4 linked regions of the Homo sapiens genome follow. The protein of the gene in region 2 interacts with the protein of the main gene of each other region in a pairwise test. Each region holds a gene or a part of one and is shown on either strand. Other genes may lie near its edges.

Region 1 (7,987 bases), on a different chromosome or scaffold from region 2:
CACTCCTCTTCTTTTTATTTTTGAGACAGGGTCCTCACTCTGTCACTCAGGCTGGAGTGCAGTGGTGTGATCTCAACTCACTGCAACCTCTGCCTCCTGGGCTCAAGTGGTCACCCCACCTCAGCCTCCTGAGTAGCTGTGACCACAGGCACAGGCCACCACGCCTGGCTAGTTTTTGTACTTTTTTTTTTTTTTTTTTTAAACCATGACTCAGCCCTCAGGAGATCCTGAGAACATGTGCCCCTAATTTTTGTATTTTTTGAGATAGGGTCTTGCTCTGTCACCCAGGCTGGAGTGTAGTGGCACGATCATGGCTCACTGAAGCTTCTGCCTCCTGGGCTCAAGCGATCCTCCCTCCTCAGCCTCTTGAGCACCTGGGACTACAGGCATGAGCCACCACGTCCAGCTAATTTTTTTCTTTTTTAAGATGAGGTTTCACTATGTTATCCAGGCTGGTCTTGAACTCCTGGGTTCAAGGGATCCTCCAACCTCAGCTTCCCAAAGTACTGGGATTACAGGCATGAACCACTGCACCTGGCCCTCCTCTTCTAGTAATACTTTTAACAGGCATTGTCATCCAACTCCAGCTGAAAAATTAGTTACTTTCCTATGACTAGAGACCCCTGTTGTAATAAGGAAAACATCAATGTATAAAGGGAAGGAAATCCATTTATAAAATTTGTCATTTTTTGGTTACTTGAAAAATAATCAGAGCAGCAACTCAGATCTTGCTGGGTATCAATGGTAGACAGATTCTTGGCTAAGGAAGTTTAAATTTTCAGGACAAGTACTAAGCACTAAATGTTAACATTTCAGAATCGCATTGTTCACAGTGTTTATTTGAGAACTCATAAGTTGACTGATAACAAATCTCAGACATCGGCTTTCCAGTTTTTGACGCAGTATTAGATTTCTTGTGAAATTTTTAGCTTGAATTTAGCCACTAACTTCTTGTGTTTCCTAAGCTTAAGGAAAATGAAGAGGTGAAAAAAATAACATTTCCCCCTAACCATTGCTCGCCTTTCCTCCTCCTCTCTTCCAGATATTCCGAGTGGTGTGCATCTGTTTGGGTAATCCACCAGAGACATTCACCTGGGAATATCGAGACAAAGATAAAAATTATCAGAAAATTGGCCCCATAACACCCTTGGAGTTTTACAGGGAACATGTCAAGCCACTCTTCAATATGGAAGATAAGGTTGGTGAATGGCACTGGTAGTCACTGGCTGTTTACTTTCAAATGGCTGTTAACCACAGGGAATTGTATAAGATTCTTGGTTAGCATGTATGAGTATCAAACTAGACAGCAAACAAACATTTTTCCCCACTTCCTCTGAAGTATTTTATGCAGCTAATGAAGTTGGTGGTGCCAGGATTTATCAGCTTTTCCACAATGTTCCTCTTCAGAGACTTTTTAAACTGTAAGCCAGCAGTCATTTTAATTCCCACATGCGCCCCTGTATAGGACCAGAATCATTCTCAAGTGCAAAACAATGAAAGTGTGTTGGGTATTTCTTATCGTGGATTCAGAGCACTTTTGCACTGAGGTCCCCTCGGGGAACTCTCCTGTTGAAGGGAGTAATCTTAGTTTTTCCTGTTCCCTTTAGGTCTTCCTCATCTGCCTAGTAGGAGGATCAGAGCCTCTTCCTTTTATTGGCTTCTTGATCCTCTTCCAAGCAGATGCCTGTCTTGTAACTTGAGAACAGGGGCCTTGTGATTAGCTCTCCAATTTTTCTTACTCAGTGCATGTTATTTTTCAGAATGAGTTTTGAGGGCCGGGTGCGGTGGCTCATGCCTGTAATCCCAGCACACTGGGAGGCTGTGGTGAGTGGATCACCTGAGTTCGGGAGTTCGAGACCAGCCTGGCCAACATGGTGAAACTCCGTCTCTACTAAAAATACAAAAATTAGCCAGGCATGGTGGCGCACATCTGTAATCCCAGCTACTTGGGAGGCTGAAGCAGGAGAATCACTTGAACCTGGGAGGCGGAGGTTGCAGTGAGCCGAGATGGCGCCATTGCACTCCAGCCTGGGCGACAGAGTGAGATTCTGTCTCAAAAAAAAAAAAAAAAAAATTGCTTTTGGAGCAGTTCTTGCTAGTAGGAAAAACAGGTAGATGCACCTCCTAATTGTGTCTCTTACGCGAATTAGAATAAGCAAGGACCTCTCTCACATGTATTTTGCCACCTTGTGTTTCTTTGTTACTTAACAATGTGGCTGTAGTACTTAGCTTGTAGGCAGAGATGATGAGCTTGATGGAAACATGAACCTAGAGGAGAGCTGTGTGTTGCTTGACATTCCTGGTTTTGTGCCCTAATTAATGTGTTCTTGATCTTGATAGATTTGTTTAGTGAATGACCCTAGGCCCCAGCACAAGTACAACAAACTTTACACAGTGGAATACTTAAGCAATATGGTTGGAGGGAGAAAAACTCTATACAACAACCAGCCCATTGACTTCCTGAAAAAGATGGTTGCTGCCTCCATCAAAGATGGAGAGGTTGGTATTGTTTCTGTATTTTGCACATTGGGGTTAAAACATCTTTTACTTCTTTGGTATAATAGGAAGATGGGGTTTATGTTGACTTTCTTCCTCTTTCTTCTGTTTCTAGGCTGTGTGGTTTGGCTGTGATGTTGGAAAACACTTCAATAGCAAGCTGGGCCTCAGTGACATGAATCTGTGAGTGCAGGAAATTTAAAATGGAAAGTCATTTGTGGGTTGTTGCTGTTGGAGTGTGCTGTTGGTACAAAATGACTCTGCCGAGGTTCATCCAAAGATGAAGGTTGACCTAAGGGCGCGTCTCTTTCTTTGCATCCTTTAGAGTTTGAGGACTCATAGCAGAAACTCCACATACTTAAACACTCTAACCCAGGACATCAAAATCCCACTTTCTATCTGAGTGGAAATCGTTGGGCGTTCCTAAAAAGCCATCCTCTATGAGAAAGACACTTTAAAAAAATAATTGACTATTGCGGAAATGTGTTCAGTGCATTTGGGAGTGTAATGAAAGATTTTCCAGAGCCCCCGTTTGCTATGTTACTTTGGTAACTTTGTATTTTGTCATTGTGACAAGTGGGACTAATTTGCATGCATACTTTATAGCATTCCTCCTGGTCATTTATGACAATGAAGGTTAATTTGTAAACTAAATCATATAGGATTCCTTGACTGTTCACCATTCTCTATTTTAGGGTTACTTATAAATAGTTGTTACTTGTAGGAAGTTGAGTAAATATCTTGATAGAGAAATCTGCTAAAAAAAAGAATTAATGAGGTTTAAAAAATTTTTGAAAACAGGTACATGCAACTCCCAAGTGTGTCTCTCACACTAACTAGAACATGCAAGGACCTCTCTCACATGTATTTTGCCTTTTGTTTCTTTGTATTTAACAATGTGAGTGTAGTGCTTATGCAAAAATATTCCCCAATATTTTGGACATTATTTATTTAAATTTTAATCAGCAGTGATTTAAATGAATTCAGAAACTGGTTGGTTCCACCAGCTCAAAAGAGATCAGTTTTCTAAGAAGTTACTTCAAACGCTTTTTTCATTATTTTTTAAAGTTTTCTTGCCTAAATGACAATGTAAACTTGTCAGCTTCTGATGTGGAGAATTTATGTTTAATCATCTCCTTTTTTTCCTGCATACTCTTGTGACACATAGAGAATGGACTCCCACTGAGAGACTAAGTTCTGCATGTTCCATATTCTTTCTGAAGAGCTACAGCTAGAGCCTTATTTATTTGGAGCTGTTGAGCCCCTTCAGTTTCTTCTGAATTCCTTTTACAACCAAAAGCCAGTTTTCCCCATGATCGTACTCCCTTTATTTTGTACTATCATTCTTTTTACAGCTATGACCATGAGTTAGTGTTTGGTGTCTCCTTGAAGAACATGAATAAAGCGGAGAGGCTGACTTTTGGTGAGTCACTTATGACCCACGCCATGACCTTCACTGCTGTCTCAGAGAAGGTATGACCCTCAGCATGCCTGCTGGAGTGTTTGCACAGATGGATCTACATTCTCCTGTAGACTGTTTACCCAACAAAGCTTCATTCATAGTGTATATGATTTCTGTTAAAAGTTAGTTTCCAAGTAAGACATCGTACCTGCGTCACTTGGGGCTTGGCTGCGTGCTTAGAGGTAATATAAAAATAGGAACTTTCTATGAGGAGAATTTGGGTCAGCAGGGAGCGACCAAGTAACTGTTTCTGTAACTTTGGAAGGTCATGGTTTAAAGAGAAGTCAGCAAGGGAACTTGAGAGAAGATAACTTCTACTTTATAAGGAATCAAAATGTGCCCTGAAAGTGTTCATATCTTGATGACCTATGTTCAGATTTCCCTTCATTTGTCATTCAGATTCTTTTGCAGTAAAATGTCAATAACAGTAATTTGTGGACTCCATACCCATTTCTAGTTATATGCAGAGCTTCAGGAAATTGGATGTAAAGTATTTTGAATTTCCTGTGAAATAGTGTGTATAGTAATACCACTTTTTATAGGTTATAGAGTTGGAAACAACTGAAATTTTATCTTTCACAAATAAACTCCTCACTTCCAGTCAGTAAAAATAGATATTTTCACCTCTGTGCTCAGGATCATCAGGAAGGAAGAACTTGAACTACTTTAATTCTTTACCACCACAAGCAAAAATATTCTTTCTAGCCTAATTCCTGGAAAGTCACAGAATAACTACCTTATATAAATTGTTCTAGAAAATCATTTTTTTTTTTTTTTTTTGAGATGGAGTCTCACTCTGTCATCCAGGCAGGAGTGCTGTAGTGTGATCTCAGCTCACTGCAACCTCCACCTCTGGGGCTCAAAAGATTCTCCTGCCTCAGCCTTGCGAGTAGCTGGGATTACAAGTGCCCGCCAACACACCCAGCTGATTTTTTTGTATTTTTAGTAGAAGTGGGGTTTTGCCATGTTGGCCAGGCTGGTCTCGAACTCCTGACCTCAGGTGATCTGCCCGCCTCAGCTTCCCAAAGTGCTGGGATTACAGGCATGAGCCACCGCACCCAGCTAGAAAATGGTTTGATAGAGAATTGTTTTTGCTATCCTATCCACTAGATTTATGATCTTTAAAATGTTTAGAAATATCTTAGCATATCATTATGCCACATTTTCCTAACTAGCCTATCTAAAAGTCCTGATTTGCTTTTTATACTCTATGCAGAATTGTGAGTGGGATGGGGTTTTCTTTCTGTACCTTTTTCTCACCTCTTCCAACTACTTCACTTGAAGGGTGCCCTTTCAACCCCACAGCATCTAAGATCCCTGTGCTCTCTCTGTATTCAAAACTTGGTCTTAAAGGTTTAATTACATTCCTGCAAATTATAAGGCTAGTGCTTTAAGTAGTAGAACTCTGAGGTATTCTCAGTTTTATATGAGATCAAACACAGTATGGTGTAAAGGTGCCCTGAACTTAAGAGGCAGTCTTAATGCTGATACTCCTGATCCTCATGTAGTTTTCATAAATAAATGTAAAGGTTGAGGTCTTGTAAACCAGCGAGCTGTTTTCCTCATTATTCCATTCGTCAGTAATCTCAGCTCTGTAGTTAGCGAGACTCCCACACCAAGAAACAGGTTTTTAGGGTTACCCAGGAGAATGTGTGGAGTATAATTTGCATTACTTATGTAGATCAAGAAAAGTCATTTTAAAACAGCAAAAGGTGATTTAAGTGTTATCACCCCAATTTAACAAAATTCTCACATTTGAATTATAAACAAAACATAAAGTTAGGTTATAAAAGGAATTTTAGACCGGGTGCAGTGACTCACACCTGAAATCCCAGCACTTTGGGAGGCTGAGGCGGGAGGATCACCTGAGGTCAGGAGTTCAGGACTAGCCTGACCGACATGGCGAGACCCTGTCTCCACTAAAAATACAAAAATTAGCTGGGCATGGTGGCGTGCACCTGTAATTCCAGCAGCTACTCTGGAGGCTGAGGCAGGAGAATCCTTTGAACCCGGGAAGCGGAGGTTGCAGTGAGACAAGATTGCACCACTGCACTCCAGCCTGGGTGACAGAGCAAGACTCTGTCTCAAAAAAAAAAAAAAACAATAAATAAATAAATAAAATACATGAAAAGGTTTTTCAAATAAGGGTGCTTTATAACTAAACTAAAGTTCTTTAAATAAATTTTTAAACTATATAGAGTTCTGTTTTGTGTTTTTTTGTTGTTGTTTTTTTGTTTTTTTTGAGACTGAGTCTTGCTCTGTCGCCCAGGCTGGAGTGCAGTGGCACAATCTCAGCTCACTGCAACCTCCACCTCCTGGGTTCAAGCTATTCTCCTGCCTCAGCCTCCTGAGTGCAGGCGTGCACCATCGGCCTGGCTAATTTTTTTTTTTTTTTTTTTGTATTTTTAGTAGAGATAGGGTTTCGCCATGTTGGCCAGGCTGGTCTTGAACTCCTGACCTCAAGCAATCCACCTGCTTCGGCCTCCCAAAGTGCTGGGATTACAGGCATGAGCCACTGTGCCCAGCCGAGAATTTGTTTTGTTTGTTTGTTTGTTTTTAAAAAAACAAACAAACAAAAACTTGTAATTTCCAAGAAAAATTCAGCTTTTTATCATTTCTATCTCTGTTATAGAATACTCCTATTTTTCAGGAATAAAAATAATGAATACCACTGTCATTTTCTTGGGAACTTCCATTCTTTGATTAGCATGGGTTGTTTCCTTAGGAAAATGGAGCTACCTTACATGCTAATGGTATAAAGCAGAATTTATATTATTATACCTGGAATTTTATATTGAACATTTTCTCTTCATTCCACTAGAGTTTTTGATCCCAAAAACGAGTTTGAACTACACTTGAGTAATAGTACAGAGGTAAATGCATACTAGTGGTTATATTTCCACAATTTTCTTTCTTTTGTTGCTGATATCATGGAATCCCTATAAGGGAGTTCCAGGTATTAATCATTTTGTAATTGTAGATGACCCAGAGAACAATTTGATCTAGGTCACTCCAGGAATTCATTGGCCAAGGGGAAAACATAGGAAACATTTTCAGACTTAGAGTAACAAGTAACTATATCACTTTAGGTGACATCGATTCTAACAGTGATATTTAAAAGGAAAGTAAAGTTGGACTACAGTGGGAGGAATAGAAAACCAAAACAGACATATAATATGCCAGCTGCAGAATGTATAGTATATAACGATATGGTTTTAAAGGATTTGGGGGCAAAGAGTAAGGATTAGTACAGGTAAGGGTGTGTGAAACTTGTGAGTTTGTTGGCGCTATTTGTGAGACAGAAAATTACTGAGATCCAAGAAAACTGCCAAGAGTGGAGTGTTTGGGTTAGCAGAGCCAAAGAGAACCAAATCCCATATAGATGAGACTCATCATATAGTTATTTGCAAGTGGGAGTTGACAGATGAAATCATTAGGCGATAATACAGGGGTGAGTGCTCTTCTCATGCTACAAAGATTTAAGTTGCCTTGACATCAGTAAATGTCCTGGGTAAACATGAAAGAAAAAAGTCTTTTCCCAAATGGAGCCTTCCTCTTGTCCCTCTCTGTGTCACTATAGTAAAGGCTGTAAATGAAGGTTGTTGTGATGAGTATCACTGTCCCTTTAAGAAGACCAAAATTGAGCTTATTTTAATAATGAAGATGGAAGAAGGAGAACAGTAGAAGTGCCTGGCTTTTGTTTATGAAAATGGTCTTTTTACTTTTGCTTTGCCATTCAGTCTCTTCTTTGAAATTCAATATTTGTGTAACTGGATCAGTAAAAGAATGCATTTGGGAGAGTATCATTATTTGGTTTCCCCAAGTAGAAAATCAGGCAGTATGATGAGTTTGTTTTGTTTTGTTTAAAAAAGACTCTGACCAGGTTTTAGAATTATTCCTAAAATAAAGTAGGATGCATTTGCTTTAATCAATATTGATTGATTAAAAGCAAGAATCCCCAGCTTCAAATGTTTACTGCTTTTAGTAGGTTAATATAGTTTTTCTTAGTCAAGTAGCATTTTTACATGC
Region 2 (6,844 bases):
TAGAATAAAAGTGCTTACTCATTGTTTAAAGCATTCTCCAAATTAGTCTGCAAATTTTTTGATAGTATACATCCTTAAAAAATGAGCACATCCCAATATATGCATATTTATTCATAAATGATACATACATATGTAGCTATATAATGTGTACATCACAAAACATAGGAGAGTATTTTTTCTAAGGGATGAGATAAGAATAAATAGAAATTTTGGCATTTCTTCTCACATTAGATGCTGGGTTATTCTGAGCCCATGCCATGTGCACACCCACTTGGCCTCTTCCTCTTAGGCCTACACCCTGCCCTTTCCTTGCCCCTTGTAGTTACTGTGGCTGGAGTGATGAGCGCCACTCCCAAGCATGGCCTGGAACAATGTCCTCCTGCCCCTCCACCAGCAGTGACAGGATTCACTGGGGACTCGGGGGCAAAGGAGACTGTGTCACAAGACAAAAGGAGCCAGGGTCACACATGGTGTACCCTCGCCCTGCCTCACCCATGGCTGACATGGGTTGGACACCTCAGAAATCATGTGTCTTCAGCGAGCCACTGAGAGTTGGGGCTTTATCTGTTACTCGGCTAGGGGTAACCTAACCGATGAGACTGTAACTGGTTACTGTAAATAACCAAGCTCCCAGTAATAGTAAACCAGTGACAAAAACAATTCTTATCCAAAAAGGTTCACTTTTTTTTAAAATGTGTGAACTAAAACAGTCTTTATTGCTCTAAGACATTAAAATTTGCACTTTTTTGATGTTGAATACCACTGAATATTTTATTTTTATATTTTATTACACAGAAATACAGCAATTATTACAAAACGAGTATTAGGAATGGCAAAGGCTTTAGGACAGACTATTAGCGGAAAACATTTGGAACTTAAGGAGTGTTTTACATTTGGAACTTACTTTAAGGAGTGTCGTTCAGACACTAGCTATATCTTAACCTCAATTTTTAGAAGTAAGCAAGCTCTCATTTTTTGCTATTCATATTTGAAGTGATTAAACTCATAAATTTGAAATTTACTTTTTAGAGACCAAAGATTAAAATTAGGTGGGATGTCAGCTTTTAAAATATACTAAGATTTCCTACAACTACCAATAGCTTATTTCCCTGGGAAACAGATTACATTGTAGTACTTAACCCAGAACTCATGCAGTTCATCCAAAATGATGGTAAACTTTTTTCCTCAGAATTACCTAACTTTCCTTGACTATGAATTCAACATTCAAGAATCTTCTTCTGGTAGCAGGAGCGGCAGAGAGGACAGGCATGGAAAGGAGGCCTGTCTCCCACGGAGAACTCCTCTAGTGCCAGCAGACACGCATGGTGGAACACATGTGAGCAGGACAGGAGGGCCATCTCTCTGGAACGCCTGCCTGCACCCACGCGCTGACCGCCAGCAGCGGAGAGAGGGGCCAGGCAGATGGAGCACTCGTGGGTCTCCCGGCGCAGAGCCTGCGGCACACAGGACGGGAAGAGGCCACGCGGGTTAGTTTCATCACAGCAGAAAGTTACTTAAACTGAAATGCGAACCATGTGCCCCGAGACATGGGTCTTCGAAACATGCGGAAGTTTCATTCTGTGTTAAAATCACATGCATTTTATTTATATATATACATATATATATACACACACATATACTCTGTTACTCCTGGGAACTGTGGAAAGGGTTAGTAACCCACCTGTGATAAGCAACATCCAACAGGAACTTCCAGAATTTCAAACTGAAGGGACCTTTGCCGTCACCCTAAAGCCCATGAGGAAAGTCCTACCACAGGTGCAGGGGCAGCTAGGGCAGCGGTTACCCCGGGACTGACACTCCTAGGCTTCCCAAAGTGAGTCCTCGACCTCCCCCGACATGCCACCCCCACAGCCTCCACGGCTGCACCCCGGGCCTGACACTCCTAGGCTCCCCAAAGTGAGTCCTCGACCTCCCCCCACATGCCACTCCCCACAGCCTCTGCAGCTGCAGCTGAGTCTGCTGGTTGCCAGGCTGCCAGCCAAACCTACCTGCACTTGGATTTTCTCCCATTCCTCTTCTGTGATCTCATGGCCACATTTTTCTTCCAACTGCTGAAGAACACTTCGATTTATGGCCAAGCACTGATCGATTTCTGCAAAGAGCTCTTCAATGTTGGTGTTGTATGAGCACAGGATGCGGTGGCTGATTTCTGTGAACTGAGGAGGAGGCGGGGGCGGGTAAGCTCACACCTGAGCTCGGTGGAGGTTGCAGGGAAGCGCTCTCGAGCCTGACCATCTATTTTGGTAACCTTCCTCGTCTCTGTCTTCGAATAATACTTTTTAGGGAAATAGATATATGTCTATTTTACTTAACTATAAATCCAGATAATCTGGACAGATGACCACAAGAACCCCTATCTGATGGAGTCCAGAACACACTACCCCAAAATACGGCACCTTGGCATACTGAATATTTTAAGGAAAAAACATTCCTTCCCAAAGGAATTTGAGAAATGACAGCTGCAGGAGGGACCGTCTGACCTCTCCCCACCCCTAAAGTGGGTCACAGGACCCTCCTGTGAGAGGCACCCTCGTCTCCAAAGACGGAGGGAGCCGGGAGGAGACAGCACACAGGCCTTGCCGTGGTTCCCACCGACCACCCTCAGCTCACCCCTTGTCCTGTCATGCTTCCCCACGACCTCTGTGTCCTCATCCAACCTAGCATAGAAAGCGCTCAGGCGTTACTGTCTCTTCGGGTCTCCGCTGCCCCTTCGGGTCGCCGCTGCCTCTTCGGGTCTGCACTATCTCTTCCGGTCTGCGCTGCCTTAGGAAGGCTTCCATACCACATGGGACTTACTAAGTAAATCCGTGTAATTTTCTCGTTAAGCTTAACTTACAGGGCTCCAGCTGAAGAATTTAGGAGGGTAGGGGAAAAGGGTATATTGTTTCCCTCCCCTGCTGTTTTCTTGGTTGTGAGCTTTGACCATTAGCAGGAACACATTTGAAATTAAAAGTTGAGAGAAAAGTTCGAATTTCGCAGGATCAGCTCTGTCCCATAGAAACATACTGTGAGCTACGTATGTAATTTTAAAATTTCTGGCAGTCACATTAAGTTTTTTAAAAGGTGAAATTAATTTTAATATTGTATCTGACCCAACAGATCCAAAATATTATCACTTCAACGTTTATTAATTGAATACAGTACTTTGTTTTTTTTGGTATTTTTGTTTGGTTTGGTGGAGACAGCATCTCGCTCTGTCACCCAAACTGGAGTGCTTGGGGCCATCAATGCTCACTCAGCCTCGGCCTCCCGGGCTCAAGCCATCCTACACTAGAAAGGTCTGAGTCATTACAGAGTGGCCACCAGTGTCATCTGAGGCACGGGTAGGTGGCTCATTCAGGGCCACACCAGCGGCTCCTTTTTAGTACATGTGAAGAGTGTAAAGCAAAGGAGAATAAGGTGTGTAAAAGGTTGTGCCAATGGTGACTGTCAGCCACACTTCCTGCCCTCTTGCTTGTCCTTTCAAGTACAGAGCTGTGGCTCACCCAGAGATGACATTTCCCATTCCCCCATGCCCAGGTGGGGCCACGTGAAGTAGTTCTTCCAGATGGACGTGGCTCATGTCTCTTCTGGGTGTTCTCCAGGCCCGGGGGGTGGCAGATAAAGGGCAGAGGGAGACAGTTCCCGAGCCCCACAGGCTGGCATGTTGCCTGCAAGCCAGGACACCTGAACTGTCCTATGAGACCGAAGCTCTGGCTTTCAGTCACTGAAATTCGGGGGGTTATTTGTCCAGCAGTGAGAAGTGCCGATTCAGCAGTTACATCTGCTTCATGGAATCCGGCTTGAAGCACAAAGAAGGATGAAATGAACAAGTCCCGTGGAGATCTCACACATTTAGATATGTGATGGGGAAAATGCATTTTGGATGGTCCATGACTGTCCAGGTTTCAAATATTCTAGTCTACTGGAGTCCTCACGTTCACTTTTTCTTTTTTTTTTTTTTTTATTAATGTGGAGCAACCTGGCAGAACGTAGTGTGTATTTAAATCACCAGACTTCTGAAGGTGCCTTTGAGGACATGGAGTTCTCTTCCAATTCTCTCCCTTCTGCAAAAAGATCGTGAGACAGCGCAGGGTCGAGTGCTGTGGAGACTATGAGCTGCCTTTCTCCCTGGGATGTTAGAAGAATGAGTATTGGCTTTAAGGATGAGAGGTCCTTTTGAGTAAAGAACATTCTGTGAACACAGCAGGCAGTCCACAAGGGTTGGGGTTTGAATGAAGGGGGTGGCTGAGGATCTTCCAGGCACCTGTGTTTTGGGATTAGCCGTACTTGGAAGCCTGGTGGAAGCTGCTTTTCTATTTATGAGTCAAATTCTCTTTCACTCTGAATGTAATTATAATTGCCAAGCAGCTGTATCTTAATTTAGGGTCTTGAATCGGTAACGTTTCCTAAGGCTTTAATTTTAATTTTCTTTATTCCTTGGCCTTTCAAATATCTAATAATATCTAAATAAATTATTGAAAGTAGAAGAGTTCTCTATACATTGTAAAAGGAAAAATTACTTGGAAATATACACAGTTACCTCCAATTGATGCTTTGTAATTCAGGTTTTCTGTAAATTGTTTTTAAGTGTGAGATACTTTCCACATATGCCTGAAAAGCAAGATCTTTTCTTCCTTCAAAATTATACCTCAGAAAAAGGGTCACATTCTAGTCCAGACCTTGCAAAGTGTTTCAACTTGTGAGGTATGTTCTGAGATTAGTTTTGGACATAAAAGTACTATTTGGAATGACTGATCAATTGAATGAAATGATCGATATGATCTGGGTGTTTATTCTCAAGGTGGGGCCCAGACCCCGCAGCCTCAGCTCCTGGGAATCTGTGAGAAAAGCAGAGCTTTTCAGGCTTTGCCCCGGGCCTGCCGAGGCCACAGTCCGCGGGGTGAGCCCTGCGATATGCTTTACAGCCCTCCAGGTGATTCTGAGGCCCATTCAGGTTTAAGAACCACGGTCATAGAAGTTACCGATCACATTTTTAAATATGCAAAGTTATTTAACACAGCATTAGTTATCATTCCTGGAGGTGTCACCTCCCAACTCCAAGCATGGGTATCGCTGTGCGTGCGCTTTCAGAAGCCACTTGAGAGAGGAACAGAGTAAGTGTGCGGGCCACATATAAATATGTATGTACATCTATATGCATTTATGTTACAGTGTCACCTGTGTGTGCATATATTCTATCATACGTGAGTGTATCGCTCTCTCTACAGGATGCCTGGAGCAATCCCAGCTGTCCTGATGTTACATAAATGAGTTACTTAGCTCAAGATAAACTTCCAAAGACAGCATCATTAGGACTTTTTAAAGTACATTTTCCTTCAAACACTTTAGATGGAAATAGAGCTCATATGCTCTGAACAACTGTGTTGGGTGACTCCTAAGTGGCCCTATTGATGACAAAGACCCTGAGGTCCAATACTGATGTCACCTATTGCCTCCTTCTGCCTCAGTCACTGTGGCATACAGGTCCTATCTCCTTTATTAGTCCTGGGGCCAGGACTGTTCTTAACGCTGGTAATAGCATCCAGGGTTTTTAAAGGGTTTTGCACCTGTCGTCGTCACACCCTGCCTTTAAACCCTCTCAAGAGCTCAGTACACGCACCGACCATAGTAGGCACTTGTTGAAAGAAACAGACTTGTCAGTTTTGCATATATACCAAATAAATCTCAGGGAGGGTGGCCCTTAACACTTAGTGCTCCAGTCTTAATGGTAACTGGTGTAATATAGCAAGAAAGCAAATAAATGCTTAGGATATTTTAATATACATAAGAATCACAAACTAATTCCACACTCAGGTGTTTGATTCCACAGAAGAAAACCTAGCATGGCAGACGCAAATATTCCTTTCCACAAGTTTTGATGAAATATTCCATTCCACAAGTTTTGATATGTACTTTTGCTATTCAACTGAAATTTCTTCTCATTTCCATTATAATTTTGTCTTCGATTAATACGTTATTTAGAACCGTTTATTTTCAAACGTGAGATAGTTCTATTTTTTTAAAAAAAATTTATTTCTAGCCTCAGCTGCACCGTGGTCAGGGAACATACTCTACACGACTTAAGTTTCTTCAAGTACGTGGACATAAAGATGGTGACATGAGATACTAGGACGACTGGGGAGGGACACGGGCTGAAAAACTAACTGTTGGGGACTGTGCTCATGAGCTGGGCGACAGGACCGCCTGTACCGCAAACATCGGCGTCCTGCAGTACACCCAGTGACAAACCTGCACAGGCACCCCCGAATCTAGAAGCTGAACTTATAAAACATAAATGTCTCGACCTATGATGACATCTGCATCATGGACAAGCGTATGGTCAGTTTTTATAATGATATATTTGTACTTTGAAAGAAAATATGTGCTGCCGTTGCTCGGTGTGGTGTTCTACACCATTATCTCTAATGATGCCTTTGCTTTAGAATCTCTTTCGTCAGGTATCAGCACATCAGCCTTCTTCTGTAAAGAGCTTATGTGTATATTATAGTACATATAATATGTTACCACACTCACACACACACTGTTCGCGTTTTCAGGCATCTCTTCTGAGTAACACATACATAATCTGATTGGTGCTGGAGCACTCAGTCCGCTTTGTGTTGTTACTGACAGACAAACGGTGCACCCATCCTGCTCTGTCTTCCATCTGCCCTGCCATTGGTTTCTTAATTTTTGCTCTTTTCAATTAAAGTTTTCTATTCATTCTCTTTACTGTTTTGAAGGTTAAAACTCTGTTTCTATTCTTTTAGCTATTGCCCTAGAAGTGCATACTTACATTATTAAGGTCTAAATTGGAATTTTTATCCCTCGAACCAATACA
Region 3 (7,987 bases), on a different chromosome or scaffold from region 2:
GGAGGCGCAGGTTGTAGTGAGCCAAGATGGCACCACTGCATTCCAGCCTAGGCAACAGAGCAAGACTCTGTCTCAAAAAAAAAGAAAGAAATTAGCTTTACCAAATAATTTTTGGTTATATATACCAGCCAGAAGTTATTGTGCTAATGAAAGTTTATTAAATTTACAGCATAAAACAGTAAGACTATACTGTAAACTCTACCTCTACCAAAAATACAAAAATTAGCCAAGCATGGTGGCATGAGCCTGTAGTCCCAGGTACTTGGGAGGCTCAAGTGGGAGAATCGCTTGAGCCCAAAGAGGTCAAGGCTGCAGTGAGCTGTGATCACGCCACTGCACTCCATCTTGGGTGACAGAGCAAGACCCTATCTCAAAAAAAAAAAAAAAGAAAGAAAGAAAACAATAGCACAAAGAAAAGGGTATTAATCTAACTGAATTGTTTTAAAGTAAGATGTTAATTGCAATCCTCAGGGCTAATACTAAGAAAATAGGCTGGGCTAGGTGGCTCACACCTGTAACCCCAGCACTTTGGGAGGCCGAGACGGGTGGATCACCTAAAGTCAGGAGTTCGAGATCAGCCTGGCCAACAAGGTGAAACCCCATTTCTACTAAAAAAATACAAAAAATTAGCTGGCCATGGTGGCGGGTGCCTGTAAACCCAGCTACTTGGGAGGCTGAGGCAGGAGAATCACTTGAACCCAGGAGGCGGAGGTTGCAGTGATCTGAGATCATGCCATTGCACTCCATCCTGGGCAACAAGAGCAAAACTCCAGCACAAAAAAAAAAAAAAAAGGAAATGACAAAGGAAATGAAATGGTACATAAGAAAATATCTATTTAATGCACAAGACAGTACTAATGGAGGAATAGAGGAACAAAAAAGATATAAGACATGTTAAAACAAATGGCAAACATCAGAGCAGACATAAATCCTACCTTACCAGTAATTACATTAAATGTAAATGAACTAAACACTCCAATTGAAAGGCAGAGATCAGCAGACTGGATTTAAAAAAACAGACTGAACTATGTGTTACCTACTGGAGACATACTTTAGATTCAAAGATACAAAGAGACTGAAAGTAAAAGGATGGGGAAAAACATGCTATGCCAATAGTGCTCAGAAGAAAGCTGGAGTGGCTATACTAATTAAAGCCAAACAGACCTTAAGACAAAAAATATTATGAAGAAAGATATTTTATGATTTTTTTAAAAAAGGTCAATCCATCAGGAAGACATAACAATTATAAACATATATTCACCTGCCAACAAGGCCCTAAAAATACATGAATAAAAAACTGGCAAAACTGAAAGAAAAAATGGACAATTCAACAGTTATAGTTGAAGACTCCAATACTTCTACTTTCAATAACAGAATAGGCAGAAGACCAACAAGGAAGTAAAAGACGTGAACAACCCTATAAACCAACTACATCTAACAAATATCTATAGAACACACCACCTAATAACAGCCAGATACACATTTTTGATGTTTTGGGGGTGGTTGGAGGGGTGGGTAATGGGTATTTCTGGAATTAGGTAGTGGTAATGGTTGCACATCCTTGTGAATATGCTAAAACCACCGAATTGTATACTCTAAAAGGGTAAGTTTTTTCGTATGTGAACTAGATCTCAATAAAGCAGTTATTTTTAAAAAGGAACATTAAATCAAAAATAAGAGCAATGTAGTATGGAATACACATGTAAAAGTAACTTATAAGAACTGTGATGTAACAACAGCACAAAGGCAATAGGGAGAAATGGAAGTATACTATTACAAGGTTCTTAAAATATACATGAAATGGTATATCACTTGAAATTACACTATGATAAGTAAACAAAAAATGTAAGTGCCTTACACAGAGTGGATATTTCACAAAGAATTATGTGAAGATTTACAGCATATGATCAATTTTTAGGGCCTAAAATACATACATGCCTTTTAAATAATATAAAGCTATATATACATAAATATAAAACATACTTACCAAAACAGAATAAATGTGCAAACATCGATAAACAGGGGAAAAATCAACAAGATCCTGAACAGTTAAGATCTGAAAATTAAACCATTTTTAAAAAAATTATAGGTCAAACTATTAGACCACCATTAGATAATGTAAAGTTAAAGATAGGCAAGAAGATTCATGAACTTTGTGTTACAACATTTATTCAATTCCCCCATAGAAAGCATACACTATAAACGCAAAACCTTCTTTATTTTGTTTTGGCATTTCTTCAGCAGTTTATTCTTTGTAGTATGTTTATTATCACTGTGGACTGTTTTCAACTTAAGGTAACCAAGGAGAGAAATTGTATATTTTTAATATGTATGATAGATTACAGAAAACTGCTATGGATAACTAGATACCTTATTATTGTTTTGGGTAAAAATGATACACAGATTTCATGATTTGGCTATAGACAAAGTTCCTGTTCTTACGCAGCTATGTCATATGATTGGTCATTATTGCACTGAATTAAAGACACTATCAGTATTATTTTACAGACTGCTAAGAAAGAAAAAACACCACCACTTAAAACTATAACACCATCATCTTTAAGATGTATCCTATATTCTGAAATGTTATGTGGAAAAAAAAATGCCTTACAATTGATGAAATGTAGTACTATAAAGTTTCTCAAACTTGAGAAATACATAAACCCTTTTTAAAGGAACACATTTGTACTCATGTGAATCTCCAGAGTGAACTTAAATTATTTTTACTATAACATTGCTTATTAGGGAAAATGATAAAAACAAAATGTAGTGCAGTATAGTAGTAAAATAGATCTGAGAGAACAGGGAAACCACCAAGCTCCTCTAAATGTAAAGGTCTGGGGGTAAGGCATGATGGTGATGCTCCCAGCAGGAAAGATATACAGAACAGGAAGGGGAAAATTGAAGTAAGAAGACTAGATGGTCTATTTTCAACATTCTGAACCTCAAAGGAGAAAATAATACAGAGGTCCTCTGAATATTTAGAAAGAACAAAAAAGCAGAGGTCAAAAATATTTATTTAATTTAAAGGGACAAAAAACCTAATAATAATTTCAAGGGACTAATCAGGACATACTAATTCCACATTAGGAAGGCATTTAACTGTTTGAAGCTGTTCATTTGTCTGTATTCAGTACAATAGCAGACATTCACTACATACGCATATATATACATATATACACATATATACACACATACACATATGTGCATACATATTCACACAAATATATTACATATATACTACATATATATTTGTGTGACTATGTACATATGTATCACCTCATCCTCAGATATACAGCAGAAATGTACATAGTGGCTGGGTGTGGTGGCTCACGCCTACAATCCCAGCACTTTAGGAGGCCAAAGCAGAAGGACCACTTGAAGCCAGGAGTTCAAGACCAGCCTGGACAACACGGCAGTTCCCCATCTCTACAAAAAATATAAAAAAATTAGCTGGATATAGTATATACAGGCATGTGCCTGTAGTTCCAACTACTTGGGAGGCTGAAGCAGGAGGAGCATTTGAACATAAGAGTTTGAGGTTACAGTAAGCCATGATTATGCCAACTGCTCTCCAGCCTGGGTGACAGAGTAAGACCCTGTCTCAAAAAAAAAAAAAAAGAAATGCACATAGTAAACACTCAGCTGTTCACCCATTCACAAATGCAGTCATGAGCACATAGTCGTATGGTTCAACTAAAAATTCTTACTGCATCCCAATTATGTCCTTAGAAAAAGAATTTAAAATCTCATTGGCAAGGCAAAACTTATAAATTAATTGGGAATAACAAGGTTCCTATGATAGTAGCTAAATTTAAAAAAAAATTGAAAAGGACGATAAAAGGTAAGTTCAATAGAAGATTCTGTGGAGATAATTTTATTTATTTTTTTGAAATGGGCGTCTCACTCTGTCACCCAGGCTGGTATGTAGTGACATGATCACAGCTCACTGCATCCTCAACCTCCTCTGGCTCAGGTGATTCTCCCACCTCAGCCTCCCCAGTAGCTGGGAATACAGGCACTATGCCTGGCAATTTTTTTGTATTTTTTGTAGGAAAAGGGTTTCGCCATGTTGGCCAGGCAGGTCTCAAACTCCTGGCCCAAACAATCTGCCCCCCTCGGCCTCCCAAAGTGCTAGCATCACAGGCATGAGCCACGGCATCAAGCCCTGTAGAAAAAACTTTCGAAAGCAATAGGATGCCGGGCATGGTGGCTCACACCTGTAATCTCAGCACTTTGGAAGGCTGAGTGAGAGGATAATTTGAGGCTAAGATAATCTGAGTTCAAGACCAGCCTTGGTAACATAGTGAGACCTCTGTCTCTATAAGAAATTTTTTTTTTTTAATTAGCCAGGCATGGTGATAGTGTGCTTTTAGTCCTAGCTACTTGGGAGACTGAAGTGGGAAGAACACTTGGACCCAGAAGTTGCAGGCTGTAGTGAGCTATGACTGTACCACTGCACTCACGGGCAACACAGTGAGCCCTATCTCTAAAAAAAAAAAAAGAAAGAAAAAAAGAACGAGAGAATGAATTTGGATATAGAAGATGAAAGAAAGAAAATATTTAAGGATAATTTCAAGGTTTCTAGACTTACTAGAACTTTTTTTTTTTCCATTAAAAGACTAATCATAGTAGAGTTATTTTTGTAGTATTTCAGCACCAATTTTTTAAATAGGTAGACTATCCAGAATTAGGCCAAATGACAAGACATTACGAAATAAAAATCTGACAACAGGTAATTCAAATATAAGTAATCACTATAAAAATAATTAGATTTGGGCGCAGTGGCCCACACCTGTAATCCCAGCACTTTGGGAGGCCGAGGTGGACAGATCACCAGGCCAGGAGTTCAAGACCAGCCTGGCCAGCATGGTGAAACCCCGTCTCTAATAAAAATACAAAAATTAGCCAGCCGGGCATGGTGGCGCATGCCTGTAATCCAGCTACTTGGGAGGCTGAGGCAGGAGAATTGCTTGAACCCAGGAGGCAGAGGTTGCAGTGAGCCAAGATAGCGCCACTGCACTCCAGCCTGGGCGACACAGTGAGAACCCGTCTCAAAAAAAAAAAAAAGAAAGAAAAATTAGATTTACACTTTTTCTACAGATTCCACTACCAGAGATTTAGGAATATAATCTACAATCATGTTTATCTGTCAATTATCTAGCCCAACATTTCAGATGACTCCATTGTCCTAATAGCTCAATACAATCTGACTGACTTTGTCAACTTGAAATAAAAATATATACAGAAAAATTTCCTAGCAAAAAAATTTATTTGAGAATAAACAAAGAAATAGGATTAAAATCCAGGACATGCACAGACCAGGGTGGTCTCTGGCATGTCTGCAGAACAAAGGAGGTTAGGGTTTTACCGGGGAGACAGATTGTTATGCAAATTGTTTTGAAAGAAAGTTCACTGGTGAGTGTCACTAGTTGCTAGAAAGGACTTGTAATTTTGGAGTTATGGTTAGGCCCTTACAGTTTTGGATTGACCTTGTAAGATAGTTGTTTGTTTTTTTTCTTCTTTTTGAGACAAGGTCTCACTCTGTCTCCCAGGCTGGAGTACAGTGGCACAATGTCGGCTCACTACAACCTCCACCTCCTGGGTTCAAGCAATTCTCATGTCTCAGCTTCCCAAGTAGCTGGGACTAGAGGTGCCCACCACCATGCCCAGCTAATTTTTATATTTTTAGTAGAGACAGGGTTTCACCATGTTGGCCAGGCTGGTCTTAAACTCCTGCCTCAAGTGATCCACCCACCTCAACCTTGCAAAGTGCTGGGATTACCTGTGTGAGCCACTGTGCCTGGCCTGTTTTGAAACAGACAAGTGTTCACATGTAAGCGGCTAGCTGTCCTTGTAGGGCTGATGCAGTAAGCTATGGTTTCAAAAAATTTATTGTGATAGCTCCTGATACCAGGCTAATCGTCCATGACAGCCCTCCCTTCACGGCCTTCTCAGCCTCCATTTTGTCAAAGTTTGACACACTGACTCCATTTTGACTCTGACAACTTTTACAACATAAATTTATTTTGCATACAGGAAGACTAAATCACACAGATGTACATTACAATCCAAAAGAAAAAAAATTATCTAATAATAGAAAAGAAAGAAAGACACCTATCACCTCTTCTTCATTCTCATCCTCTTCTTCAAGTGAATGTTTCAATACAGTTTCATTCCTTTCCTCTGGAATTCTATCACGATTTATATACATATTTTTCCCAAATTTCATTTTATTTTGTTTCTGCAGAGAAACACTGAAGGTTTTCTGATGCTGTGCCTATTTTGAAGAGAGAGAAATTCAGATTATTTCAAAACTGATTATGGTCAAAATTGGTTCAAAAAATTTGTTCATAGTTTTTTTTTATCTTTTTAATGTCTGTAGGTATAGAATTTGTAGTGATGTCTCCTTTCTTATTCATGATTTTTGCCTTCTCATTTCCTTTTTTTAAAAAAAAAAAAAAAAAAAAAATCAGGGTCTCACTCTGTCATCCAGGCTGGAGTACAGTGGCACCATCACAGCTCACTGCAGCTTCAACCTCCCCAGGCTGCAGTGATCCTCCTACCTCAGCCTCCAGAGTAGCTGGGACTACAGGAATGCACCACCACACCCAGCTAATGTTTCTTTGTTTTTTTGTTTTTTTTGTTTTTGTATTTTTTTGTAAAATGGGGTTTTGCCATGTTGCCCAGGCTGGTCCCAAACTCCTGGCTCAAGCAATCCGCCTGCCCCAGCCTCCCAGAGTGCTAGGATTACAGGTGTGACCCACCGCACCCAGCTTCTCTTCCTTTTTAAACAGTCTTAAAATTATGTAGAACCATGTATTTCCTCAGTTGGCATATTGTGTGTTGGCAAGGGGGACTGGCCAACACTCTTTGGCCATACTCCCAACTTCCTGAATTAGCCATTAACCTCACAGAAGGAACTATAACATCAAGTTGCAAGCTTATTTTACTTCCCACTGAAAATGCCCACAGTTTGTGAAGACTAAGAATGTAGAAGCTGTTATCCCACAATTGATCATTGACAAAAAACAACATTTACACAGAATAAAAAGTTGAGAACCCTCATACTTTTAGGCATTTTAGTAATACTTCCCTATCAGAACTTCATTACCAGAAATAGAAAAAAATATAAACTTAATTCCAGGATTTTAATTTCCTTACACACTGCGAGACATTCTCTCTGTTTTGATGGGTCAGATTGTTGCTATTTTGTTCTGTTAGCACATAGAAAGGTCGTGCACTGGCTATTTTAGGTGAGTTCTCTCTAAGGCACATGTAACTGCCAATCAGCCCTTCTCTACACTTAGGTTATCAGACCATGCAAGTTGCAGTAATCTGGCTCCTCTCTTACCTAGACTTTGATCCTGGCTGCCCCCTAGAGGCTGGTACTGGAGAAAATTATTATCACTCCTGTGTATTCCCTTTCCCTCTGTGCCCAAACTAATTTTGTCAATGATTTTCTGTCCTCAGAGTATAAAATCATTTATTTAGAGTATTGTTTCCCAATTATGTTATGCACAAAACTAACAATTCACACAGTAAAAACAGATGTTCCTTGAAAAAAGGGTTCTAAGTTCAAATGAGTTATATAAATATTACATATTGTATCCTCCTCCTAGGAGATTTACAATTCATAAGTAAAGAAATCCGCTTAACTTTATTTAACTCAGGTTTCCAAAATTTATTTGACTATTTAGTCCTTTTGTTCTCCCTAGAGCAGTGGTCCCCAGGCTTTTTTTGCAGGTGGATGGTTTCAGATGAAACTGTTCCACCTCAGATGATCAGGCATTAGATTCTCATAAGGAGTGCACAACCTAGATGCCCCGCATGCACAGTTCACAATAGAGTTTGCGCTCCTATGAGAATCGAATGCCGCTGATCTGACAGGAGGCGGAGCTCAGGCAGTAATCCTCTTTAGCAAGCCACTCACCTCCTGCTGTGTGGCCTGGTTCCTAAAGGCCACAGACAGGTACCAGTCCACGGC
Region 4 (7,987 bases), on a different chromosome or scaffold from region 2:
GGCTGGTACTGATCCTGAGCCTGCTCCTGAGCCTGCTCCTTTGTTTTAAAGAGGAGATGAGCAAGTGCTTATGAGGTGGTAGAGACGCCTCAGTGCCAAACTGAGATGCCCTCATGAGGTGGTACAGATGCCGTGAGGTGGTACAGATGCCTCAGCGCCACACTGAGATGGCCTCGTGAGGTGGTACAGACACCTTAGTGCCACACTGAGATGGCCTCGTGAGGTGGTACAGATACCTTAGTGCCACACTGAGATAGCCTCGTGAGGTGGTACAGACACCTTAGTGCCACACTGAGATGGCCTTGTGAGGTGGTACAGATGCCTTAGCGCCACACTTGAGACGGCATCCTTGATGAGGCTGTGGGGGTGATTGGTCATTGAAGAAATGGAGATCAAGAAAAACAGCTTATTCAGGGTGACAGCTATGGGAAGTCAGAAGCAGGACTGGAACTCCCCATCCTTGGCTCTGGCCACCGCCATGGAACTTGAAGGAGCCCCGTTGGGGATCCCGCTGTGGGGGCTCAGCCCCTGCTGGTGCCTCCTCCTCAGCCGTCCCTGAAGCAGGTTTCTCCCAGCAGGAGCCGAGGGTGCGCCTGCGCTCCGGGGCCCAGGTGGGCGAGGGCCGGGTGGAAGTGCTCATGAACCGCCAGTGGGGCACGGTCTGTGACCACAGGTGGAACCTCATCTCTGCCAGTGTCGTGTGTCGTCAGCTGGGCTTTGGCTCTGCTCGGGAGGCCCTCTTTGGGGCCCGGCTGGGCCAAGGTGAGTGAGACAGCCTGGGAGGGGTTAGAAGGCCTGGATATGCCACTGGTCCATGTCTTGAAGGCCCTGGGGTGACAGGGCCAGGACAGAAAGTTATCCCCCTCTGTGAAGGGGAAGCCACAAGTGTGGGGTTACGGAGATGGAGCCTCGCACACAGCACCTCTCTCCCCATCTAGGGCTAGGGCCCATCCACCTGAGTGAGGTGCGCTGCAGGGGATATGAGCGGACCCTCAGCGACTGCCCTGCCCTGGAAGGGTCCCAGAATGGTTGCCAACATGAGAATGATGCTGCTGTCAGGTGCAATGTCCCTAACATGGGCTTTCAGAATCAGGTGAGTTTGGGTCTGAGCATGGCCTCAGGCTGGGGGCCGGGAAACCCTGGGGAGTCCCCAGGACACCACATCGAGCTAGCGGGGAGAGGTCCAGGAGGAGCGGCTAGCGCTTCTGCTTTGGGCACCAGTCTGCCTTCCCTTAGAGCCGACCTGGCTGCAGCCCCTCCGAAATGTCAGAGGCCACAGGGGCTCTGCAGATGGATGTGCTCTCCCATACCCGTCTCGGGTCCCCTGTGAAGCTGAGAAAGAAGGTGCCTGGGAAAGAGGGCCACAGGGCTGTCGGCACGAGGGAGTCTGTGTGGGATGCTCAGGGCAAAGTGTCAGTGCTAACATGGACTGTGAGCAAGTCACTGGTGCCACTGTAAAATGGGGTTCACGCTCTCAGGGGGTCACTGTGAATGAGGCAAGGGACATGAAAGCCCTTTGCAAATTGCCAGTTGTCGTTAATGGTGGAGGGCAAGTGCCAGAGCAGGAGGAGCCCCTGGTCCAGGCACTTTGAGTCAGATTTCTCTAGCAGGCAGGGACATTAGAGACTACCTGCTACACTGTCCTCACCTTACAGAGAAGGAGACCAAGGCAGAGAAGGGGACTGTCTTGTCTAGGGTGACACAGTGAGCTGGCTTGGGCAGACCTCCAGGCTCGCAGCCCTGAGCTCTTCCCTGCAAGGCTACCCCACTCCTCACACACCCCTCGCCATTGCAGGTGCGCTTGGCTGGTGGGCGTATCCCTGAGGAGGGGCTATTGGAGGTGCAGGTGGAGGTGAACGGGGTCCCACGCTGGGGGAGCGTGTGCAGTGAAAACTGGGGGCTCACCGAAGCCATGGTGGCCTGCCGACAGCTCGGCCTGGGTTTTGCCATCCATGCCTACAAGGTAGGTCCCTCTGTTGTTTCTTCCGTATGACCTCTCACCCTCCTGTTCTGAGGCCCAAAACTTCCTGTGCTAAAGCTGCTGCCTCTTTGCCCATTTGGCAATTCATTACTGAGTGAAACTATGAGCCGACATGATGCTGAGTGCTGGGAACAGTGTGGTAAACAAGAAGACATAGTCCTAATGAAATCGTCAATGAGGGACACATTTGCATCTGCAGGAAAGATGAATAGAAATTAGTCAGACAAGGTGGAGGAGGAATGAATAGCTTATGCAAAAGCCCTGTGGCCAGAGAAAGCTTGATTCAGCTGAGGAAATCAGGGCCAGGGATTGTAGTGTGGCTCTCTCTCGAGAGTGCTGTCAAACATGAGGGCAGAGGAGGCAGGGGCAAGATCACTCAAAGCTTGCAATCCACATGTTTGAAAGATTTCTTCCTTTGCTGTTTGGAAAACGTTGGGTGGAGATTAACATGAATGCAAGGAAACACACTCAGGAGGCTATTGTAGTAGCCCAGGTGAGAAATGAGGCTGGACTGGACCAGGTAGTCCAGGAGAAATAAGTGGATAGATCTAAAATACATCAAAAAATAAAATCAAGAGGACTTAGGCATGACCGCAACAGAGAAACCTCTGCACTTGCACCCACACTGGCTGCCGCACAGTGTGGACTGGGCAACCCTGAGCACAACTGACGATCTGGGCCGCTTGAGGAGCAGCTGGGGAAATGTGAGCACAGCCCCCAGGGAGAGGGGCGGGGAACAGGACCCTCCTCTGCCATCTGGAAGAGAGAGGGGTGTAGGGCCAGTAGTGGAAGCCACGGTGGGTGGATTTTTACCTCCATATGTGGTGGGGATTTCTAACATCAGAAGGGTCCAAATGTGTCATGGACTGCCCCAGGGAATTCGGGTTCTCATCACTGAAGATTTTCAGGCCCAGGCTGGACACAACCCGGTGGGGGTGGTATGACTGAGGCCACACCTCAGATGGGAGTCAGGAGGTGACTCCAAAGGCACGCTGACTGGGTGACGCTGGCTGTCTTCTTAGGAAACCTGGTTCTGGTCGGGGACGCCAAGGGCCCAGGAGGTGGTGATGAGTGGGGTGCGCTGCTCAGGCACAGAGCTGGCCCTGCAGCAGTGCCAGAGGCACGGGCCGGTGCACTGCTCCCACGGTGGCGGGCGCTTCCTGGCTGGAGTCTCCTGCATGGACAGTGAGTGACGGAGGGCTCACAGGGCTGGGGACAGGTAGGCCTGTGCTCCCCTTCAGGGAGGGCCCTGCATGCTGGTCCCAGGTCTATGGCCAGCAGCATGGGGGAATGAAAGTACCAGCTCTGCCATTTCCCAGCTGTGTGGCCAAATCACCCATCCCATCAGGATCCATACCCTGCCCCCTCACGGAGTTATTGTGAGAAAGAACACTGAGAACATGAGGAAGCACAAGGACACGGAACGGCGGTTTTCAACTTTGGGTTATGACCAACAGTTACAAACAATGAAACAGGACAGAAAACAGCAAGGGCAGTTTTTCCTTGGAACTATGTGTATACTGGGTTACAGCATAAAATGTATTTCTTACTGTGGTTTGTAGTCAGAAAAGCAGTTTGAAAGCTGTCGTAGAGGACATACAAATATGAGCACACCCGGGGCCAAGGCCCAGCTGTGTGTTCTCTTCCTGAGCTGTGGGATTTACCCAAAAAGACTTTGGGACAAGGCCATCTGTGGCATTGCTCTGCCCCACAAACCCAGATTCTTAGGGCAGCAGCATCTCTGACATCTCCCAGCCAGGTCAGTGCCAAGATGGACTATATCCAGCCCAAAGGTTACAGATAGCATCAACCCAAGTGGCCACTTGACCTTGTTCGTGGCCAAATTTCGACACCAAGATATCCTTCATCTTTGTCAGTGAGCTCCTGGCTTCCTCTCTGTCCAGGGCACCCTGGGGAGAACACTGGGCCCATCCATCAGACCCTCCCCTGCAGGGATGGGGCATGAGAGTGGACCTCCCCATCACCAAGGCCTCCCAGCACGTGGGGAGCCTGCTCCTCACTTGACTCCCCTTCCTGGGAACCTCGAACCCCTCCCTGCTCCACTGCCTACAGTGGGAGCGCTCTTCTTGAACACATTTGATCCTTCACGACAACTTGGCACAGTCAGCCAATCTGCAGTCTCTGTAACCACCTGTTTTTCCTCCCTGGCTTTTCACATTGCTTTCTTTCCTTTACTCTCTCTTCTCATTCTCTCTGAAAGCTCGCCTTCTTTCACCAAGAAACTCTAGGTTTGTCAGTGGGCACTTCCTGGCTCTCTCCAATATATACCACAGGACCCTACATGGCCAACTGCCAGATGCAGATGGCTCCAGCCTGGGGCAAGCTGCGGCCGGCCTGCCCAGGTGGCATGCATGCTGTGGTCAGTGGTGTGGCAGGGCCTCACTTCCGCCCAGGACTACTTTAGTGATAGTGATTTTTAGTGACAGTACAGGCAAAGTATCCAGGTTAGGTATCAGCAGAGCTTTTTGAGAGGATTATATGAACTAAGCTACATAAAGGCACTTTACAGGCTTAAAAGCATTTTACAAAATAAATACTAGCTTCAACTGCATGTTTACTTAGGCCAGACATGTTACAGGTGTCATCAGATTAATATCACCATTATCTTCATCTTACAGATGATGAAAATGAGAGACAAAATGGTTAAGCAGTTATAGAGCTAGTGAATTATACAGTCAGAAAGTAAGCCAAGAATGAACCCAGGTGGCCTGGCTCCAAAACCAGCAAGCCTAACCATGACACTGTAGCTGCCTCCCAGGTTAAGGTGATAGACTTCCTTTAAATGTTATTAGAACTCACCATCTCCTGACTCTTAAAACTGCCCTTCTTTTGTGGGGTCCTCTCGGAGGGTTTAATCTGGGGGCAAGCTTGCCCTCTGTGCTGGAGACTAAGACTGGCTGCCTTTCCACCCTTTGAGTCACTGCCATGCCCTCCGCCGCCCCAGGTGCACCAGACCTGGTGATGAACGCCCAGCTAGTGCAGGAGACGGCCTACTTGGAGGACCGCCCGCTCAGCCAGCTGTATTGTGCCCACGAGGAGAACTGCCTCTCCAAGTCTGCGGATCACATGGACTGGCCCTACGGATACCGCCGCCTATTGCGCTTCTCCACACAGATCTACAATCTGGGCCGGACTGACTTTCGTCCAAAGACTGGACGCGATAGCTGGGTTTGGCACCAGTGCCACAGGTTAGAGCCTGCCCATGCATTGGCACTAGAGGGTTAGGAACAAAAAGCAGGGTCCAGGGAGCAGTTTGGCCCTTCCCTGGCCACAGGCAAGTTTTCCTGGGAGGGGTGTGCGCTCTCCTTGCTGGCCTTGCCTGCAGGAGGCAGTGAGGACAGCGGCATCCACCTGCCCCTCCATCGCTCTCGCCTTCACTATGTCAATGGTGCCCGTGGGGTCTGTTTCCCACAGCAACATCCCATAGAGGCGTCACCGCCAGCAGAGTTGTTCTGTTAGAATGGTATTTGACACTTTTCCTATGTTGGATCATAGGCCTTGTCTTCAGAAGCCAGGTAAAGTGGGGACTCCCAGGAACCTGGGGGCCCAAAATAGACATCCCATCCAGGGTGCTGGCTCTGCAGGAAAAGCTCGCTGATTCCTTCAGTAGTAAGGCAAGGCCCTCAAAGAACAGCATGAACAGACTGCCACTAAAAAAGTGACAATGAACATTCTTTCCTATCAGGAGCTTCCAGACCAGAGAGAGGGAGAGACAATGCCTGTGACAAAGGCAGAATTGTTTTTTCTTCTTCAGAACATAGCCACGGGTGGAGAAAGTGGAAAGGAATGGGCAATGACTTTGGGACTTGGTCTCGCCTGAGATAATAAGCACCTTTCCCTGTAGCATGAACAGAGCTGTCATTATAACTGGATTGGAAACAATGGTAGCAATTTGGTCCCAGGCTTACAGGGACCCTCTTCCCAGCAGGTCAGCTCCTAGGCTGCTCACAGACCCGGTGCCCCGCCTCTCCCCCCAGTTCAGGCCTTGCTGTCAGGCACCAGCCTCCTGGAGGCGACCAGAGCAGGGCTTCTACCTCTTGCCTGGGTTGAGACCCTAGGTGGTGGGGGCAGCTGTACTTGCTGCCTGGCAGGGGTGCCAGCAAAGGAGGCTGTGCGTCACACTAATCTCGGGTTTGGGAGGGAGAAGGGCACTGCCTACTATAACTTTCCTCTCGGGTCATGATGGGGCCTGGGGCCTGTCTTCCCTACCAGCCCCTCCAGAGAGGACCCTCTCCTGTTGCTGCCGCACTGACAGCTCTACCCCTTCTGCAGGCATTACCACAGCATTGAGGTCTTCACCCACTACGACCTCCTCACTCTCAATGGCTCCAAGGTGGCTGAGGGGCACAAGGCCAGCTTCTGTCTGGAGGACACAAACTGCCCCACAGGTATGTGGTTTCCTGTCAGCACCTATCAGCATCTCCTTTTGTTATGTTCTTCAGCCCCTTTGGGATCAGGCTTTCTCTCTGCCCTGTTCAGCAGCCCAGGGCACCTGGAGACCCTGGCTTGAAAAGTTAGCATTCAAGGCAATTTCTTACCTTCTGAAATCTTACGCAGGAGGTTTTTACTTCCTCTGAATTCCCCACGCATTGTTCTTCTTTTAAAACACTCAGCACTTTCCATCTTGGAGAAGAGTTGCAGACCTGTCCTATCTCTGCTGAGCTCTCCGAGGGCAAGCATTGCCTGCTTCCTGTCTGCACACCCACAGTCCCTAACCCTTAGGAACTGCATGGTAAACACTGAATCTTTAGAGGTTTGGAAGGATGGATAGGCGGATGCACAAGTAAATTAGCACGGGAGCGTTGGAATCTCCCAACCACAGTTCCTAGTTCAACAGGGATTTGCACTGGAGCAGTCAAACAAATCCTATCTTTGTCACAATGTGGTTTGCTATGGTGCTGGATTCACAGCAGGATTCTAGCTCTGACGGTCCTTAATCTGTGAACTGGGCATGATGACACTGAACTGGTAAAGGAAATAAAAGACCTAGCAGAGTGCTTCGTCCTGCCTCAAAACCTGTCTGTCCCCTTCCTTACAGGACTGCAGCGGCGCTACGCATGTGCCAACTTTGGAGAACAGGGAGTGACTGTAGGCTGCTGGGACACCTACCGGCATGACATTGATTGCCAGTGGGTGGATATCACAGATGTGGGCCCCGGGAATTATATCTTCCAGGTAAGGCGGCTGGGGGATTCCCCACAGAGCCTGATTTCCTCCAGATGTTCCACAACTTTCCCTGAGGGCAAATGAAGGGAAGAATTTCCCATACAGGGTTTCCGACAGGCCTGTCACTTAAAGGAGCTGTCCTGTTAGGGAAGTAACAGTCAAGCTGGGTCCAATGAACCTGTGTTTGAGTATTGATTCAGTGAACACTGGATAAATCAGTTTCTCAGTTGGGACTTCTCAGTCCCTATCTGTAAAATGGGAACATCAGTACCTACCTCCTGGGTAATTGTTAAGAATTAATGAAGCAAATAGAAACACATGTAAGGATTATCACAGCCACAGTCAACTCATTCAGAAACCAAATCACCCATTTTCAGTTGTCCCCTCTTTCACTCTAGGTGATTGTGAACCCCCACTATGAAGTGGCAGAGTCAGATTTCTCCAACAATATGCTGCAGTGCCGCTGCAAGTATGATGGGCACCGGGTCTGGCTGCACAACTGCCACACAGGTAACTCCGAGCCACTGTGGAATCAGCCATCTATAGGCTCAGGGAGCTGGAACACTGTAAATGTACCCTCTGCTCCCACACTCCAGCGTGTGACTTGTATGTGTGTGGTGTGCAAAAGGCTATGGATGGAACAGAGATGCATTTCCTTTGACATCTTACAAGGCAGACTTCTAGAACTGGTCAGACCATCGGCTTCACCCAATAACTACATCTTCTACATCCCTGTTTGCACTTAAGGCTGTTTGATTGTAAACTCAGTTTCCAATCTGTTCTAGAATCTTTCCTGTCACCTCAAGCCATGTCAGGATT

The links.
Region 1: the proteins of RNF32 (region 2) and BLMH interact in a two-hybrid assay, tested with the Homo sapiens proteins (one study listed by BioGRID and IntAct).
Region 3: the proteins of RNF32 (region 2) and EXOC6 interact in a two-hybrid assay, tested with the Homo sapiens proteins (one study listed by BioGRID).
Region 4: the proteins of RNF32 (region 2) and LOXL4 interact in a two-hybrid assay, tested with the Homo sapiens proteins (one study listed by BioGRID).

Annotation. Positions count from the first base shown.
Region 1 is NC_000017.11:30,267,253-30,275,239, reverse strand, and holds part of BLMH (bleomycin hydrolase), read left to right. Parts: intron 1-1,042; coding exon 1,043-1,198; intron 1,199-2,340; coding exon 2,341-2,499; intron 2,500-2,611; coding exon 2,612-2,679; intron 2,680-3,851; coding exon 3,852-3,969; intron 3,970-7,987. UniProt on the Homo sapiens protein: The normal physiological role of BLM hydrolase is unknown, but it catalyzes the inactivation of the antitumor drug BLM (a glycopeptide) by hydrolyzing the carboxamide bond of its B-aminoalaninamide moiety thus protecting normal and malignant cells from BLM toxicity.
Region 2 is NC_000007.14:156,671,029-156,677,872, reverse strand, and holds the end of RNF32 (RING finger protein 32), read right to left. Parts: intron 2,178-6,844; coding exon 2,010-2,177; intron 1,579-2,009; coding exon of another isoform or gene 1,498-1,578; exon of another isoform or gene 1,455-1,497; coding exon 1,218-1,454; 3' UTR 743-1,217; downstream 1-742. UniProt on the Homo sapiens protein: May play a role in sperm formation.
Region 3 is NC_000010.11:92,914,051-92,922,037, reverse strand, and holds part of EXOC6 (exocyst complex component 6), read right to left. Parts: intron 6,281-7,987; coding exon 6,125-6,280; intron 2,057-6,124; coding exon 1,988-2,056; intron 1-1,987. UniProt on the Homo sapiens protein: Component of the exocyst complex involved in the docking of exocytic vesicles with fusion sites on the plasma membrane.
Region 4 is NC_000010.11:98,250,756-98,258,742, reverse strand, and holds part of LOXL4 (lysyl oxidase homolog 4 precursor), read left to right. Parts: intron 1-575; coding exon of another isoform or gene 576-578; coding exon 579-762; intron 763-938; coding exon 939-1,093; intron 1,094-1,795; coding exon 1,796-1,963; intron 1,964-3,003; coding exon 3,004-3,166; intron 3,167-4,946; coding exon 4,947-5,190; intron 5,191-6,274; coding exon 6,275-6,390; intron 6,391-7,040; coding exon 7,041-7,177; intron 7,178-7,566; coding exon 7,567-7,678; intron 7,679-7,987. UniProt on the Homo sapiens protein: Catalyzes the oxidative deamination of lysine and hydroxylysine residues in collagen and elastin, resulting in the formation of covalent cross-linkages, and the stabilization of collagen and elastin fibers.